4 linked regions of the Homo sapiens genome follow. The protein of the gene in region 4 purifies or fractionates together with the protein of the main gene of each other region. This does not show direct contact. Each region holds a gene or a part of one and is shown on either strand. Other genes may lie near its edges.

What was found. The genes of interacting proteins can lie anywhere in the genome.
Region 1: the proteins of PRDM16 (region 4) and TRIO purify together in Homo sapiens (affinity purification with mass spectrometry, with the first as the bait; one large-scale study listed by BioGRID). This does not show direct contact.
Region 2: the proteins of PRDM16 (region 4) and TPX2 purify together in Homo sapiens (affinity purification with mass spectrometry, with the first as the bait; one large-scale study listed by BioGRID). This does not show direct contact.
Region 3: the proteins of PRDM16 (region 4) and SAMHD1 purify together in Homo sapiens (affinity purification with mass spectrometry, with the first as the bait; one large-scale study listed by BioGRID). This does not show direct contact.

Annotation. Positions count from the first base shown.
Region 1 is NC_000005.10:14,503,342-14,506,841, reverse strand, and holds part of TRIO (triple functional domain protein), read right to left. Parts: intron 2,450-3,500; coding exon 2,249-2,449; intron 1-2,248. UniProt on the Homo sapiens protein: Guanine nucleotide exchange factor (GEF) for RHOA and RAC1 GTPases. Involved in coordinating actin remodeling, which is necessary for cell migration and growth. Plays a key role in the regulation of neurite outgrowth and lamellipodia formation.
Region 2 is NC_000020.11:31,742,290-31,745,789, reverse strand, and holds part of TPX2 (targeting protein for Xklp2), read right to left. Parts: intron 3,250-3,500; 5' UTR 3,143-3,249; intron 1-3,142. UniProt on the Homo sapiens protein: Spindle assembly factor required for normal assembly of mitotic spindles. Required for normal assembly of microtubules during apoptosis. Required for chromatin and/or kinetochore dependent microtubule nucleation.
Region 3 is NC_000020.11:36,948,909-36,953,092, forward strand, and holds the start of SAMHD1 (deoxynucleoside triphosphate triphosphohydrolase SAMHD1), read right to left. Parts: upstream 2,801-4,184; 5' UTR 2,736-2,800; coding exon 2,528-2,735; intron 1-2,527.
Region 4 is NC_000001.11:3,068,071-3,072,002, forward strand, and holds the start of PRDM16 (histone-lysine N-methyltransferase PRDM16), read left to right. Parts: upstream 1-1,132; 5' UTR 1,133-1,189; coding exon 1,190-1,226; intron 1,227-2,143; coding exon of another isoform or gene 2,144-3,793; exon of another isoform or gene 3,794-3,932. Other genes in the region: translation initiation factor IF-2, read right to left, coding at 878-901, 2,144-3,793. UniProt on the Homo sapiens protein: Binds DNA and functions as a transcriptional regulator. Displays histone methyltransferase activity and monomethylates 'Lys-9' of histone H3 (H3K9me1) in vitro.

The DNA.
Region 1 (3,500 bases), on a different chromosome or scaffold from region 4:
GCCCGGCTGCCGGCAGTGCCAGGTGCAGCAGGCATCCTGCGGTATCTGCTGAAGGAAGGCAAGTAGCTCATGCTTCTCGGAGCTGTAGTTTCCTCACCTGTAGAATGGGCCACGGGAAGACTCACCGAGATCATGTAACCACAGGCTGGGCAGGAGGTGACACACTGAGTGCTCAGTGTTGGACTCAGAAGACTTCCTCCTCTGAAACTACTGTTCATACTAAAAAAACACTTACCCAGCACTGCCAAGTGCCAGGGGCTCAATGCCTTCTAACAACTCATTTAATCCTTATGACTCTCTGTGAAGTGGGCCTTAGTGTACCCATTTGATACACGAGGAAACTCAGGACAGAGAAAGCATGAAACGTTCCCAAGGTCCCACAGCTCCAGAGTGGAGAAGCCAGGATTGGACTGAGGTGGTCTGGCCCCCACCTCTCTCAACACCGGCCTATGCTGCTCTCTTTGCAAAACAGAAATCTGTAGGAAGATCAGCTGCCTGTCTAGCAATGGGGAGTCGCCGGTGAGAACAGGAGTAATCTGTCATGAAAACGGATCCTATTAACAGGATGGTGAGGCCAAACCATTTTGTTTCCCAGAAATGACAGCTGAAAGCACTGAAATGTCAGTCCAGAAACGAAGGCCTTTAGGAGATTTGTGACAAGCACTCAAGCCACAGTTTTGTTAAAACTCCCCAGGGAAGGTGAGCAGTGGCCATTGGTCACCAGCGTCTGGAGCCAGAAAGGAGACCTCCCGGGTCCTGAGGCTCCCAGGCCAGGCCTCGGCTTGGATGTCGGCTCGGCTCTTCCACACACATCGCCCCATCTCGGCCCCACGACAACCCTCCAAAGCCAGTGTGACTTTTAAGGACACCAGGGTGAGAAATGAGCCGATGAGAGGGAGGGCGGGGACTGAGGCCAGGCGAGGCCAGTGGACCTCCTCTCCATACACACTGCTCAGCCTCACTGCGCCCCACCGTCTGCCCTTCTGCCATGAGATGTGTTTTCTATTCTTGAAAGACGGGCTGGAAGCACGTCCCCATGTGCTGGGGGAGGTTCTAGCTGTGCAGCCATGGGTGGGAGGCCTTCCTGAGACACCCACTGTCACCCATGGCACATGGGCGGCCCGAGGAAGCTGGTAAGGCTGCATGTGGGGCCATGTGGGACGCTGTGGCAGCCTTGCCCTAGGAAGGGTATGGGGAGGCATTTATAGTTTCTTTAAGAAAAAAATGACAATAACTACAACATCAGGTACAGGGCCTGGAGGGAGTTCCTGCCGGCGAGGGGCCCCGAGCTTGAGTCTGCCCCTACATGACCCCATGGGGGCGCCCTGCTAATCCTATCCTTCCCACTGAAGAAGCTATGCAAACTTCCCAAATGGTGACAAAAGGTTTTACCCTTCCCCATGGAAAAGCAGCTGTAAATGCAAGTAAATGTATAAAATGACTCCCCCTAAAAAGGAGGAATCGACATTTTTCAAAGCTAAATGCACAGATGTTTGGGGTGGATGAATCCATGGGGGTTGTCCCTGCCTTGCAGGAGGTTGGGTGGCATCCCTGGCCTCCGGCCGCTCCCTGCCGGACTCACCCCCAGCCTGAGCTCTCCTGACATTTCCACGAGAACCCACCCCTAGATGAGAACCGCTCCTGTGGGACACAGGTTTCAAACTCTTTTCTTGACGTGACTAAATTATTTTCTGATCTTACACAGGAGCCCAGTAAGTACAACGGGGACCAGAGGGGCAGCTCTGGTTGGTGTGCCCGCGCCCCCTCTTCGGAGGACATTCTGCGGGGAGGTGCGTCTTACCCTCCCATCCAACTGGCCTTCACTTGGCAGGAGGCCTGAGGGGCACCCCGCTGATCCGGGGTGAGCTGGCCCTGCACAGGCTTGGGGTATCAGGTCAGCCTCCAACCACTAATGGGGGCTTGGGTTCAGCACCAGAGACAGCCTGGCCTCATGGGACCTTCAGAAAAGGGGTGGGGGGGGTGCATCTCCGGGTTGGCTGAGCATATCAGGTGTTCCATCCCAGCAGTGACTGCCCTTCATCAGGCAACCGCCCTGTGGAAGACCACACTGCTTTCTGCCATTACTGGAAGGCTTGAAAACTGCGGGCTCTGACAGTGAAGATGTTTTTTAGTTCTGTAAATTCTACAAACCCAATTTCTATCCTTCTTAGAGAACAAACAGGAACAACAAAACCCCCTGAGGTGGAGGCAGAGGGCTGGGCAGAGGGAAGGCCAGGTGTGTACGCACATTTCTAAGACCAGGATGTAGCTGGTGGGGGTCTCAAAGGTGTCGAGGAGGCCGACAAGCAGGGGGTGCTGGAGGCTCTGCAGGATGCCAAGCTCATGGGTGACCTGGTCGCGCTTCATCAACTTCTTGTTCACAAACTTAGTGGCCACTGCTCGCTTGGTTCCTTTCTGATCACATTTCTTAACGACAGAGAATCTGCCCCTGTAAAATATGTCAGGGGGACCATTTGCAGAGGCTGCTGAGGTCTGGCACCGAGAAAGACTCTGTTATCCTAAATGGACTGGCTGTGTGGTGGCCCAGCCCTGTCCAGAGGCCCTGCTCTCCCGGCCACTCCACGGAGGGGCTGTGGTGCCATGGCTGTCCCCCAAATCTGCCCTTGTCCCCGCAGCCACGCGGTTCTGCTGGTCCTTCCTCCCAGGCAGCCTTGGTCTCCTCACGTCGGTGGCTGCTTTCCCAGCACTGCGTGTGGTGGAAGTGACAGAGGAAGACCTCTGAGCCTTGGCCTTGCCGGGCGACTCCCTTCTGCTTCCCACGACGAGCAGAAGCTGGGATGGCTGCTCACGCCTCCCGTCAGCCACCTTTCCCTGCACGTTTGAAAGGTGCGTCTGCTGTGGTCACTGCCTCAGCCTCGCCCCTGTGGGGGTGTGTGGGGCAGGCACGAGGACCCTGGAGCTGCCCCTGATGACCCACTCCTGGGGACTGGCCACAACTCAACGCGATCTGGACGAGGCCTTGGACCTCAGGTGGGGGCCTGGGCTGGGGGCCTGAGGTGGGTGAGTGCATTCTGCACATGTGAGGACCAGAGATGCGCCTGTGGCGGGCAGACTGTGTGGTTAAAGGCCACGGTTTTGCTACTTCTGTCACTCGGAGGCGGGGGCTATTCGTCCCCTTGAATCAGGGCTGCCTGGGGCTGGCTCTGGCCCACAGGATGTGGAGGACGTTGGTCGTTCTGAGGCTGGGCCTTCAGAGGCCTTGACGCTCCTGCTCCTGCTGTTCTGGGATGCCACTGCCCTCACGTGGGGGAGCCCAGGGTGAAAGTCGATGTGGAAAGAGGCCAGTGTCCCAGACAACGCCTCTGACACGCATGGGGCATGGTGCACCAGCTGACCAGGCCAGGAGAGGCCAACAGAATAATGGTCCCATCTGCCCACTGCACTGGAAGAAGGCACATGTCACCACTGTCCTAAGACAGCATGTGCTGGTGTGACTTTTTATGCAGCCACAGACAGCTGACAGAGACAGCAACAGGAGC
Region 2 (3,500 bases), on a different chromosome or scaffold from region 4:
ATAGTATGAAGCTGAAAAAGTTTGTAATGGTTGACAGTGTGGCTGCAGATTACAATCCTAGTCAAATAGCAGTCATTTCATTTTATAGAGATTTATTCCCTTCAAAAGGTATCTGGTTTGGGGAATAACACACAAACACTCAAACCCAAGAACCTAATAAAAGTGTTTATTAGATGGCTCATGCCTGTAATCCCAGCACTCTGGGAGGCCAAGGCAGGTGGATCACCTGAGGTCAGGAGTTCAAGACCAGCCTGGCCAATATGGCAAAACCCCATCTCTAATAAAAATACAAAAATTAGCCAGGTGTGGTGGCGTGCCTGTAATCCTAGCTACTCGGGAGGCTGAGGCAGGAGAATCACTTGAACCAGGGAGGCAGAGGTTGCAGTAAGCTGAGATTGTGCCACTGTATTCCAGCCTGGTTGACAGAGTGAGACTCTGTCTCCAAAAAAAAAAAAAAAAAAGTGTTTACCTATGGATGGTGAGAGTGAAGAAGTAACAAGGCTGGAGGAAGATTTTAAACCATGAAGCTTTTTATATTCTTTTGATTTTTGCACCATGCAAATATATTACCTATTTTAAGTTATACATTTATGCCTATGTGAATATATACTGTTTTAGGTAAATCAGCATAATCTTCCTACAAGGCAATTTGGTGTTACATGTCAAAAGTTTTTAAAAATATGTTTTGTTTGTTTGTTTTTTGAGATGGAGTCTCGCTGTTGCCTAGGCTGCAGTAGTGCAATGGCGCGATCTCGGCTCACTGCAACCTCCACCTCCCAGGTTCAAGTGATTCTTCCACCTCAGCCTCCCGAGTAAGTGGGATTACAGGCACCCGTCATCATGCCTGGCTAATTTGTGTATTTTTAGTAGAGACAGGGTTTCACCATGTTAGCCAGGCTGGTCTTGAACTCCTGACCTCAGGTGATCTGCCCGCCTCAGCCTCCTCAGAGTGCTGGGATTACAGGCGTGAGCCACCGCGCCCGGCCAAAAATACGCATTCTTTTAGACCAGCAATTTCACTGGTAAAAGTAATATAAAGAACCAAATAATGGAATACCATATAGCCATTAAAATTATGTTGTAGAAAAATTTGGCCAGGTACAGTGGCATGCACCTGTAGTTTCAGCAACTCGAGAGGCTAAGGCAGGAAGATCACTTGAGCCCAGGAGATGGAGGCTGCAGTGAGCTGTGATCACGCCACTGAAGTGCACACTCCAGCCTGGGTGACAGAGCAAGACCCTGTCTCAAAAAAAACAAAAAAGAAAAGAGAAGAAAATTTATTAATGACACGGGAAAATATTCATAGCCTGATTATTAAGTTAAAAAAATTAGAGGCCGGGCGTGGTGGCTCAAGCCTCAATCCCAGCACTTTGGGAGGCCGAGGTGGGCAGATCATGAGGTCAGGAGTTTGAGACCAGCCTGGCCAATATGGTGAAACCGTCTCTACTAAAAACACAAAAATAGCCGGGTGTGGTTGCGGGTGCCTGTAATCCCAGCTACTCGGGAGGCTGAGGCAGGAGAATTGCTTGAACCTGGGAGGCGGAGGTTGCATTGAGCCAGAGATCGCGCCATTGCACTCCAACCCGGGCGACAGAGTGAGACTCCGACTCAAAAAAAAAAAAAAAAAAAAGTTAAAAAAATTAACAAAAGTTTTTAGTGTATGATTTTTTTAAAAATGAAATACAGTTGGCTGTCCGTATCTATGAGTTCCATATCTGTGGATTCAATCAACTGCAGATCAAAAATATTTGGGGGAAAAAAAACTGCAAGGCCAGGCACGGTGGCTCACGCCTGTAATCCTAGCACTTTGGGAGGCAGAGGCGGGCAGATCACCTGAAGTCAGGAGTTCGAGACCAGCCTGACCAACATGGAGAAACCCCATCTCTGTTAAAAATACAAAATTAGCCAGGTGTGGCATGCCTGTAGTCCCAGCTACTCGGGAGGCTGAGACAGGAGAATCGCCTGAACCTGGGAGGCGGAGGTTACGGTAAGCTGAGATTGCACCATTGCACTCCAGCCTGGGCAACAAGAGCGAAACTCTGCCTCAAAAAAAAAAAAAAAAACTGCATCTGTACTGCATATGTACAGACTTTTTTTGAGACAGGGTCTCTTTCTGCCACCCAGGTTGGAGTGCAGTGGTGCCCTCAGCTCACCGTAACCTCAAACTCCTTGGCTTAAGTGACCCTTCACCTTGGCCCCCCAAGTAGCTGGGACTACAAGTAGGTGCCACCACGCCCGGTTAAATTTTTTTATGTTTTATTTTTTTTGTAGAGACACGGTGCCACTATGTTGCCCAGGCTGGTCGCGAACTCCTGGCCTCAAGCAATCCTCCTATTTAAGTCTCCCAAAGTGGTGGGATTACAGGCCTGAGCCACTGTACCCAGCCTAGACTTTTTTTCTTGTCATTATTCCCTAAACAATACAGTATAACAACTATTTACATAGCATTTACATTGTATTAAGTATTATAAGTAATCTAGAGATAATTTAAAGTATGTGGGAGTATGTACATAAGCTATATGCAAATACTACACATCATTTTATACCAGGGCTTGAGCATCTGAGAATTTTGTTTTGTTTGTTTTGAGACAGAGTCTTGCTGGCTGGAGTGCAGTGATGAGATCTTGGCTCACTTGCAGCCTCTGCCTCCCGGGTTCAAGGGATTCTCCTGCCTCAGTCTCCCAAGTAGCTGAGATTACAGATGCGCACCACCACACCCAGCTAATTTTTGTATTTTTAGTAGAGATGGGGTTTTGCCATGTTGGCCAGCCGGTTTCAAACTCTTGACCTCAGGTGATCCGCCTGCCTCAGCCTCCCAAAGTGCTGGGATTACAGACATAAGCCACAGTAACCGGCCGCATATGAGAATTTTGATATCCTGGGAAGGTCTTAGAACCAATTCCCCATGGATATCAAGGAATGACTATATAGACATAGAAAAAAATTATAAAGAAATCTATCAAAAGGCTAACCATGGTTTATCTGAGAGGTGGGATAGTGGGTGATTTTATTTTCTTTTTGCTTTTCATAATAAATAAATTTCCTTCCAAAATATGTGTTACTTTATAAAATTACATTAGTCATTTAAACACTTATGAAGCTGATATATTAATGTTCCTTATTCCTATGGTCACTGCCTTACCTGTGGTTTAATCAGTCTATCAGGCCTACAGGTCTGACTCAAAGTTGCAATCTTCTCTTTCACCCCTTTTCTGAAATCTTGAAGTCTGGCAAATATGTATCAAGAACCTGGAAGAAGCAGAAAAGTGATGAAACAGGTTCCAAGTTCTCTGTAGTAAAAAAGGGTTAACAGGCCGGGAGCAGTGGCTCACGCCTATAATCCCAGCACTTTGGGAGGCCAAGGCAGGTGGATCACTTGAGGTCAGGAGTTCAAGACCAGCCTGGCCAACATGGTGAAACCCCATCTCTACTAAAAATACAAAAATTAGCCAGGCATGGTGGTGCACGCCTGCAATCCCAGCTACTCGGGACACTGAGGC
Region 3 (4,184 bases), on a different chromosome or scaffold from region 4:
AAAGACTATTTCTACAGGGAGAAAGCTCCAATATCAGATATCTGCAAGAGGCTCAGGAATCAAACACATAGGCCGGCCGGGCGCGGTGGCTCACGCCTGTAATCCCAGCACTTTGGGAGGCAGAGGCGGATGCATCACCTGAGGACAGGAGTTGGAGACCAGCCTGGCCAACATGGTGAAACCCTGTCTTTACTAAAAACACAAAATTAGCCAGGCGTGGTGGCGTGCACCTGTAATCCCAGCAACTAGGGAGGCTGAGGCAGGAGAACCACTTGAACCCGAGAGGCAGAGGTTGCAGTGAGCTGAGATTGTGCCGGTGCACTTCAGCCTGCGTGACAGAGCGAGACTCCATCTCAGAAAAAAAATAAAATAATAAAATAAATTTTAAAAAATAATCAAACAGAGGCCCAAGAACCAAACAGAGGTTGGGCATGGTGGCTCACACTTGTAATCCCAGCACTTTAGGAGGCCGAGGTGGGTGGATGGTCACTCGAAGCCAAGAGTTTGAGACCAGCCTGGCCAACATGGCAAAACCCTGTCTCTAATTAAAAAAAAAAAAAAAATGAGGCCGGGCGCGGTGGCTCACGCCTGTAATCCCAGCACTTTGGGAGGCTGAGGCAGGCGGATCACGAGTTCAGGAGATGGAGACCATCCTGGCCAACATGGTGAAACCCCATCTCTACTAAAAATACAAAAAAATTAGCTGGGCGTGGTGGCACATGCCTGTAATCCCAGCTACTCGGGAGGCTGAGGCAGGAGAATAGCTTGAACCAGGCAGTTAGAGGTTGCACTGGGCCGAGATGGCGCCACTGCACTCCAGCCTGGCGACAGAGCGAGACTCTGTCTCAAAAAAAAAAAAAAAAAAAAAAAAGAATCCAACAGAAAAAGGGTCTTCTTTTATATGATAAAGGACGGGCAAGCAGAAATAAGCAGAATCTTTGGATAGGAACCTGGACGAGCAAGGGAAAATGAGCAGTGTAGCCCAACAGGACAGCATCCTACTGTGGTCAGCCGGTTCTCAAAAGAAACTGACCAGAGGGAGGCATATTCCACTGCTTTAGTGCCTGCCTGGTCAGATCTGGGGGTAAGCAAGAGTTGAGGGGCCCATAAGGGAAGAGAGAAGTCCGAATAAAGTTTGGTCAAGACAAAGCAGAAGCTAAGACATGAGCAATTGGGAACAGTTGGTCAGTTTTTACCAAATGAAAGCACATAGTGTCTTTGATAGCAATAGGTTGTAGGTTTAAGGAACACACATCATTCTGGAGGGTAACGAGTTAATCTACAAACCACTGAAACAGAGAGCCAACCACATTTTGAGACAGAAAATATGGAACTACTTCACTCCACTTGTTGCTAGTCAAAGAAAATAAAGTAATAATCCATCCCAGCAGTGGAGGGAAACGAAAGGGCAAAAGGGGGAAGAAAAAAAAAAAAGGAGAAATGCAATTTCCCATACCCATTCAAGCTATCTTTGGGTCCTGAACCACTAATGTTCCTCCTACCCCAGTTTCCAACCTAGCCAAACAGGGCCCCACCTAACAAATGCAAAAATTTACTAAATTTGCAAATCCCAACCACCAAAGAATCACCTTCCTATTGGACACCTAGAGGATATAAGGCAGGAGTCAAATCTCACACCCACCACAAAAAGTTGAGTAGAATTCACAAGGATGGATGCTTGGATACGAATCAGTAAAATATGATTAAAACTCAACCTAAACACTTCTCCAGGGGATGTGGCCAAACTGTGGCATGCTGGGGATTCAGTGGTCAACTGAACAACCCCAAGGTTCAGATTTTGGAGGGGAACCTGCTTTTAAAGAGCAAAACATGTTCCTTACCATGTTCTGCAAGTGCAGTCAACACACGCCTATCGGGCGCTGCTGGGATGCCAAGGAAGGTGATGGGAATTCAGAGATTAACCAAGCCAGTTCCTTCCCCTTCAGGAAAAGCCTCAATTCAGGGAGGAAACCGAAACCTAAAAGCCCCAGAACATCCTCTGATGTGGCAAGTGTTCAAGGAGCTGCGGTTAGCGCGGAGGGGTCCCGCGAGCCTGGATGACAGCAAGCCGCCCACCAAGGTCTGGGGAAAAATCTCCTTCTAACTAAAAAAAAGGGACCCGAGTCTCGCTTGTCCCGCGCCGGGGTGGCAAGTTAGTGAAGAAACCCACGAGAGTGAGATCCCAATCTACGACTGCCCCTCCCAGGTCCTCAATCCCGGGAGCCTGCTCCCATCCTACGAATCGCCTATCCCAGGCGACCCCATGTCTTCTTCCTCCGCCTCGGGGAGTCAGTCCCGGGAGCCCCATGCCGCAGGCCCTCCTGGGAACCCCCGCCGCAGGGCTCCCTCCCCCGCCTCGGGTCTTCCTTTCCTCGGCGCCCCCAGCGCAGGTCCGCCCTCCCGGGTGCCTCCCGCCGCAGGGCTCGCTCCTCGGCCTCGGTCCTCTCGTGGGGCCCCCTCCCTCAGGGCGCCTGGCCCGCGCCCCAGGTCGCCGCCCTTCGCCCCTCAGCCCCTCCGGAGCCGCTACCTCGGATGTTCTTCAGCAGCACCGGCTCTTCAAAGCCACCGCGCCTGAGGAAGGAGCACACCTGCTCCGGACCCCATGTCTTGTAGTCGGGATGGAGTTCCAGGCCCGGGGACCAGTCTGCCTCTGCGGAAGGGGTGTTTGAGGGGGTTCTCGGGCTGTCATCGCAACGGGGACGCTTGGAGGGCTGCTCGGAATCGGCTCGCTGCATGGCTACACCTGGCGTCCGGCACAGCAGTCAAGAACCTCGGCGCCGGACCCGCGCGCAGGCGCACTGACAGCAGGGCCCTGGCGGGGAGTCCAAGGAGTATTGGCAGCCTATTGGCCTCCTGCGCAGGCTCACTGACAGTTGAGCCCTTCGGGCAGGGCAGCCTAGCGGCTCTTGCCTTGGGCTCCCTGCGCAGGCGCAATGGCAGTCCAGTCGTCCTCAAATCAATCCCGCCAGGGCGCTGGACGTGAACGCGAAAGGGCGTGGCTAGAAGCAGAACTGAGGGCAGTGCTGGTGGAAAGGGGGAGGAAAGAGCGCGCCCGGCACCGCACCCCCAATTAGGGGCTCGTCTAGTGAATTGGGGGTATTCTCCTTCGAATGAGTACACTACCCGCCGCACCTTGGCCGGGTTTCAGATGCCCCAAACTTAAAAGAAGCCTAAAAGGCCGTCAGGCTGCCAGCACCTTCCCAGTGAAGAGGAAAACAGTCAAGGTGCTGAACTGGAAGAACCCGGAATGATTTCAAATGTGACTTGAGGGTGTCTTCATTCCACAGTATTGCTGGTCAACTAGAGGGCCCTGGGATACCTGTTGTCTGGTGTCCACACAGGAGGGGACTTCAGACTTCTTTCCAACTAGAGACAGAGCCCTCCATCCCAACTGCATTCCCAGAGGAAGGAAAGTGGCCAGTCTGATTACTTAAAATTTAACTTCTGAGGACTTTTACTGCCTGGTTGTAACAGCATGTGAAAATGGCAGGCATTTTCCCATCACTTAACCCCTCTGCGGCAGGGCTCAAACTTCCCTATAAATACTGGTCCATGCAATTGCCTGGTAAAAGGACATATCACTATTACTGTTAATAAAGCCAACACACCTTCCCAGCAACCAAGGCATAGACCTGTTTAGGGGGTCAAGGACGAATGAGGCGGAATAGCTTATCATCAAGCAGTATGAACTAGTGGTCTACTGGTGAGCCAAAATATTATTTGCAAACAGAGCTTTACTGTGTGCCAGGCACGGTTCTAAGGGCTTTACAAATATAAAATAATTTTATATTTATACATAATACTAAATGAATTAAGTACATTCATTAAATTATTTAAATATTAAATAATTTTTATAACTTCTAAGGGTTTTACAAATATTGTAAAGTTCTAAGGGCTCTACACATATTACTTCACTTAATTATCACAATTACCTTAGGATGTAGGAAAAAGTAATTTGCCGCAGGTCTTCTTTTTTTTTTTTGAGACGGAGTCTTGCTCTGTTTCCCAAGCTGGAGTGCAGTGGCGTGATCTCAGCTCACTGCAACCTCTGCCTCCCAGGTTCAAGTGATTCTCATGCCTCAGACTCCCAAGTAGCTGGGACTACAGGCGCCTGCCACCACACCTGGCTAATTTTTGTATTTTTAGTAGAGACAGGATTTCACCATGTTGGCCAGGCTGGTCTT
Region 4 (3,932 bases):
TGGTCGGCTCCCGTCCGAGCTGCTCCACCTGCGCCGCTGGCCTTTCCGCCCGCTACGCACCTGGGCCCCGAGAGGCCAGAGGGGAGTGTCCCCAGTGGCCCGGGTCCCCGAAGGTGGCCCAGCTCGGGCGCTCGCGCAGCCGGGTACTCACCTTGGGGGCGCGGCGGCAGGAGAGCGCGGGCGGAGAGGTGCGGGCGCCCTGGGACGACCAGCCGAGGACGCCTGGTGTTTGGACGGCTGCCCCCGCGCTGTCCCCCCGTGCGAGGCGTGTTGGCCTCCGTGGCCTCGCGAGGGACCGAGGGCGGCGGGTCCGAGTGCCGCCCGCCGGCCTGGGCAGTGGCGGAGCGCGGAGCTGGCGGCGCCTCCGCTGTTGTTTTTGAGCCGCGAAGCCCGAAGCAGCAGCCGTTGGGTGGGGGCGAAGGGGAGGAGGCGGGGGCCGGGAGGCGCGAGGGGGGCGGTGGGGCCCGGAGGGGGCTTCGGAGGAGCCGGGTTCTGGCGCGCGAGCCCCGACGCCCCCTCCAGCGATCGCAGGGCGGGGACGGGGGCCGAGGGGAGAATGCAGGAGAAAAGCGGGCCGGGGCGACGGGGAACGCAAAGCTTTTAAATTAGTAATCAAACGCAGTAAAACGGAGCAAAACCAGCCCGGACTCGCGTCCGAACTATCGGCGCGTGTGCCCCGAGATCCAAGGAAGTCGTGTGGAAAACCGCAGCCGCCGCCCCATCTTCGGCCCCGGCTGGGGCGGGAGCAGCAGCGCGACGCGCCGCGACGCAGGGGCAGGGTGGGGGGATAGTCACCTCGCCTCCGGGGCCACCTGGGTCCTTTTAAAGTGTCCGGGGTGCGGGCCCCGGGCGGGAGCGCCGAACACGGAATGTTTTCTTAAAGGGCCAGTTCCGAGCTGCGCTGAAAAGGGGGGGGGGGAGAGGGGGGAGAGATAAGTGAGACGAAGACCGAGAAGGCCGAGGAGAGCCCCCCAATCCCGCGCCGAGGCGGCGGCGGCGGCGGCGGCGGCGCGACGATGAGGATGATGAATACATTGCAAAGTTTTTTTGGCCCCGGCGAGGGGTGTCAGATTGAGTGCTCTGTGCGCATGTGCGAAGGTGTCCAAACTGACAATGCTGGGGAGATGAAGATAGTGTGTGGCTGCTTCTGGACTCAAGGAGGAGGAGAGAGATTCCGCGAGCCGACACCATGCGATCCAAGGCGAGGGCGAGGAAGCTAGCCAAAAGTAAGTCTCCCGCGCTCGGCCGCGCCGCGCCGCCGGGGCCCGGGCCGCCGGGCCGGGGCGCCCGGGCCAGGGGTGCGCGTCGGGGCGCGGCCGGCGCGCCTGCGGCTCCGGGCCCCCGGCTCGGCCGCGCGGCCCGGGGGGCTGCTCCGCCTCCCGCGCTCCGGGGCGACCGGGCTCGGCGCGGAGGCTCGGGGCGCCCGGGCCGCGCGCTCCCCGAAGGCGCCGGCCCCCTCCCCGCGGAACCCCCTCCCCCCCCACCAGTGTCAGGCGCTCGGGCCCGGGAACCCGAGGCGCGCGGTGGGGGCCGGGGAGGGGGGCGGAGGGGGAGGGCCGGGGGTGGAGGGGAGCGAAAAGTGAAAGTTAGCGAAAAGTTGACGAAAGGGGAGAGCAACTTTTTCCTCCCCGCTCGCTCTCTCCCTCTCTCTCTCCGAGTGGCTCTCAGTCCTGGTCAAATCATATTCCGGGCTTTTGAAATAGTGGGCGCTAGAGCACCGCCTTTGGCGTCCGCCAGCCGGGCGCAGAGGAGGGAGACCCCGAGCCGGGGAGGGGCGGAGGAGGGGGCGCGGGCCGGCGCCCACCCGGCTCCGCGGGCGCAGGGGCAGGGGTGGCGACGGCGGGACAGCCGCAGCCACTTGGGGAGCAAAATGGAGACTTTTGCCCGGGCTGGGAACTGTGGTCGTGAAGTTTATCCCCGGCTGTGCCCCGCGTGGTGGAGGGCGCTCCTCTGGGACGCCGGCAGCCTGCGCGGGCCGCCGGGGCGACAGTGCCTCCGACAGGAGGGACCCACCCGGCCACCTCCCGACCCGCCGCTGCCGCCCTCGGGCCCGCGTGGACCCCTCTGTACCCGCTTGCCTGGCACAGCCGGGCCCGGCGGGGACAGAGCTGCCCCGGCCAGGCTGCCCGGTCCTCGGTCTTACTTTCTCTTTCGCTCCGTCTCGGCCGAGCCCCGGGCTCCGCGCGCCCCGCCTGCCGCCAGCCGGTCCTTGCCGCGGGCCGGGTGCTCCAGCCACCCGCGCCCTCGCCCGCCACAGCGCCTCCGAGCAGCCCGCGCGCACCCCGCAGCCCCGGTCGCCGGCGCCATCCGCGGTGAGGCGGGCGGGCAGGTGAGGACAGGCGGAGCCGCGGCCCGGCCAGCGCGGCTCCCGCAGCCCCGCCGAAGCCCCGGCTGCAGCGAAGCGGCCAGCGCCGCGCGGAGCGGAATCGGCGCCGCCTGCTCCCGCCGCCCCCTCCTCTGCAGGCCGCCCGCCCGCCCACCCGCAGAAGAGGCGCCCGGGCCGCTCCCCTCGAGGTCCCCGCCCGACCCACGCCGTTCCGTCCGCGCCTCCGGGGCCGGGTCCCTCCAGGCCGGCCTCGCAGCTCCCGGGGCCGAGCCCCCAAACGTGAGCCGGGTGCGCGCGGGACTCGCGGCGGTTTTCCGAAGCTCCGCTCCCTCGGCTCGGGGCCCGCCCGGCTCGTCCCAACAGCTGCCCCGCGGCCGTAGGCCCCGCGCTCTGTGCACCAGGGAAAAGCAGCTCCCGAGTTTGTGCCGGACGCTCCTGCGCCCCGCCATCGGCCGTTCCCGGCCCCTGGGTGAGGCGCCCCCTTCCCGCCGCGCTCCGCTGCCGGGTGCCCTCGGCCTCGGCCTCCCGTGACCTCTGACCCCTCTTGGTGCGAACAAGACCGGGCGTTTCGCCGCCGACGCGAAGGGGCTGTCTGTGCGCGGCGTTGCGGGCCCTCCGCGCGTGGGGTGTGCGTGTGCGTGTTCGGGTTCGGTTCTGTGTGTGCACCGCGGGCCTGCTCAGAGTCGGGACCACCGGGCTGCGTGTGGGCCGCCAGGTCAGGCCCTCGCCCAGGATGGGCCCTAAGCTGGAACGAGAAAGGGGAAACCGGCCGCGCTGACGCCGGGGCCTTCGCTGCAAGCGAGAGGCGGACTCGGCGCACCCGCGCGGCCCTGGAAACTTCCGAGAGGCCCCAGCTCTCCGCCGGCTCCACCTCTGCCAGGTGGGGAAGGTGGCCCGGGACCGGGTCCGCTCAGGACCAGAAGTGGTGCCTGGCAGCCATCTGGCCAGGAGGCCGGAGAGCCGGGCCCAGCGGGAGCGCCGAGCGCTGGCTTCCTTTTCCCGAGAGTCTTTAGTGAGGAAAAACCCCATGAGAGGTGACTGCCAGGCCTCGGCCCTCTGTCCACACTTGGCCGAGCGCTGGGAACCCCTCCTTCCAGGCTCCACAGCTGGGACCGCTTGTCCCAGGCCCCCCAAGGTGGCTGAGGCAGGTTCAGGATCACACTGCCTGCCCTGAGCAAGAAGGCAGGATCCGCTGAAGAATTTCATTTCATCAGGCGATATTTTAAGCAGATGTGAACTTCCCCGGGGACCATAGTCCATTACCCGAGTCAGAGGCGGTAGGGCCAGCACTCCAGCCAGCAGGTCCTCCCCTCCCCACAATGCTGACCAGGTCAGGGGACTGTGGGGTTGGGCAGGGGCAAGGTCATGGTTACCAGGTTGGTATTCAGGCTGGGCACAGAACAGCAACCAGGCCAGTGGAGGTGACCCCATGACCCAGCATTTCGGGGGCCACCGCCGAGTGTGCATCTGGAGGTGTAATTTCGTTTGTGTTTCCCTGGAGACCCCACTCCAAGCCTCAGTTCAGGTGGGTTAGTCCTCTGGATTGGGTCTTGTGAAGGGCCAAATGGTGGCGGCTCCGGGGGTGACCCGGGCTTCCAGCTGAGCT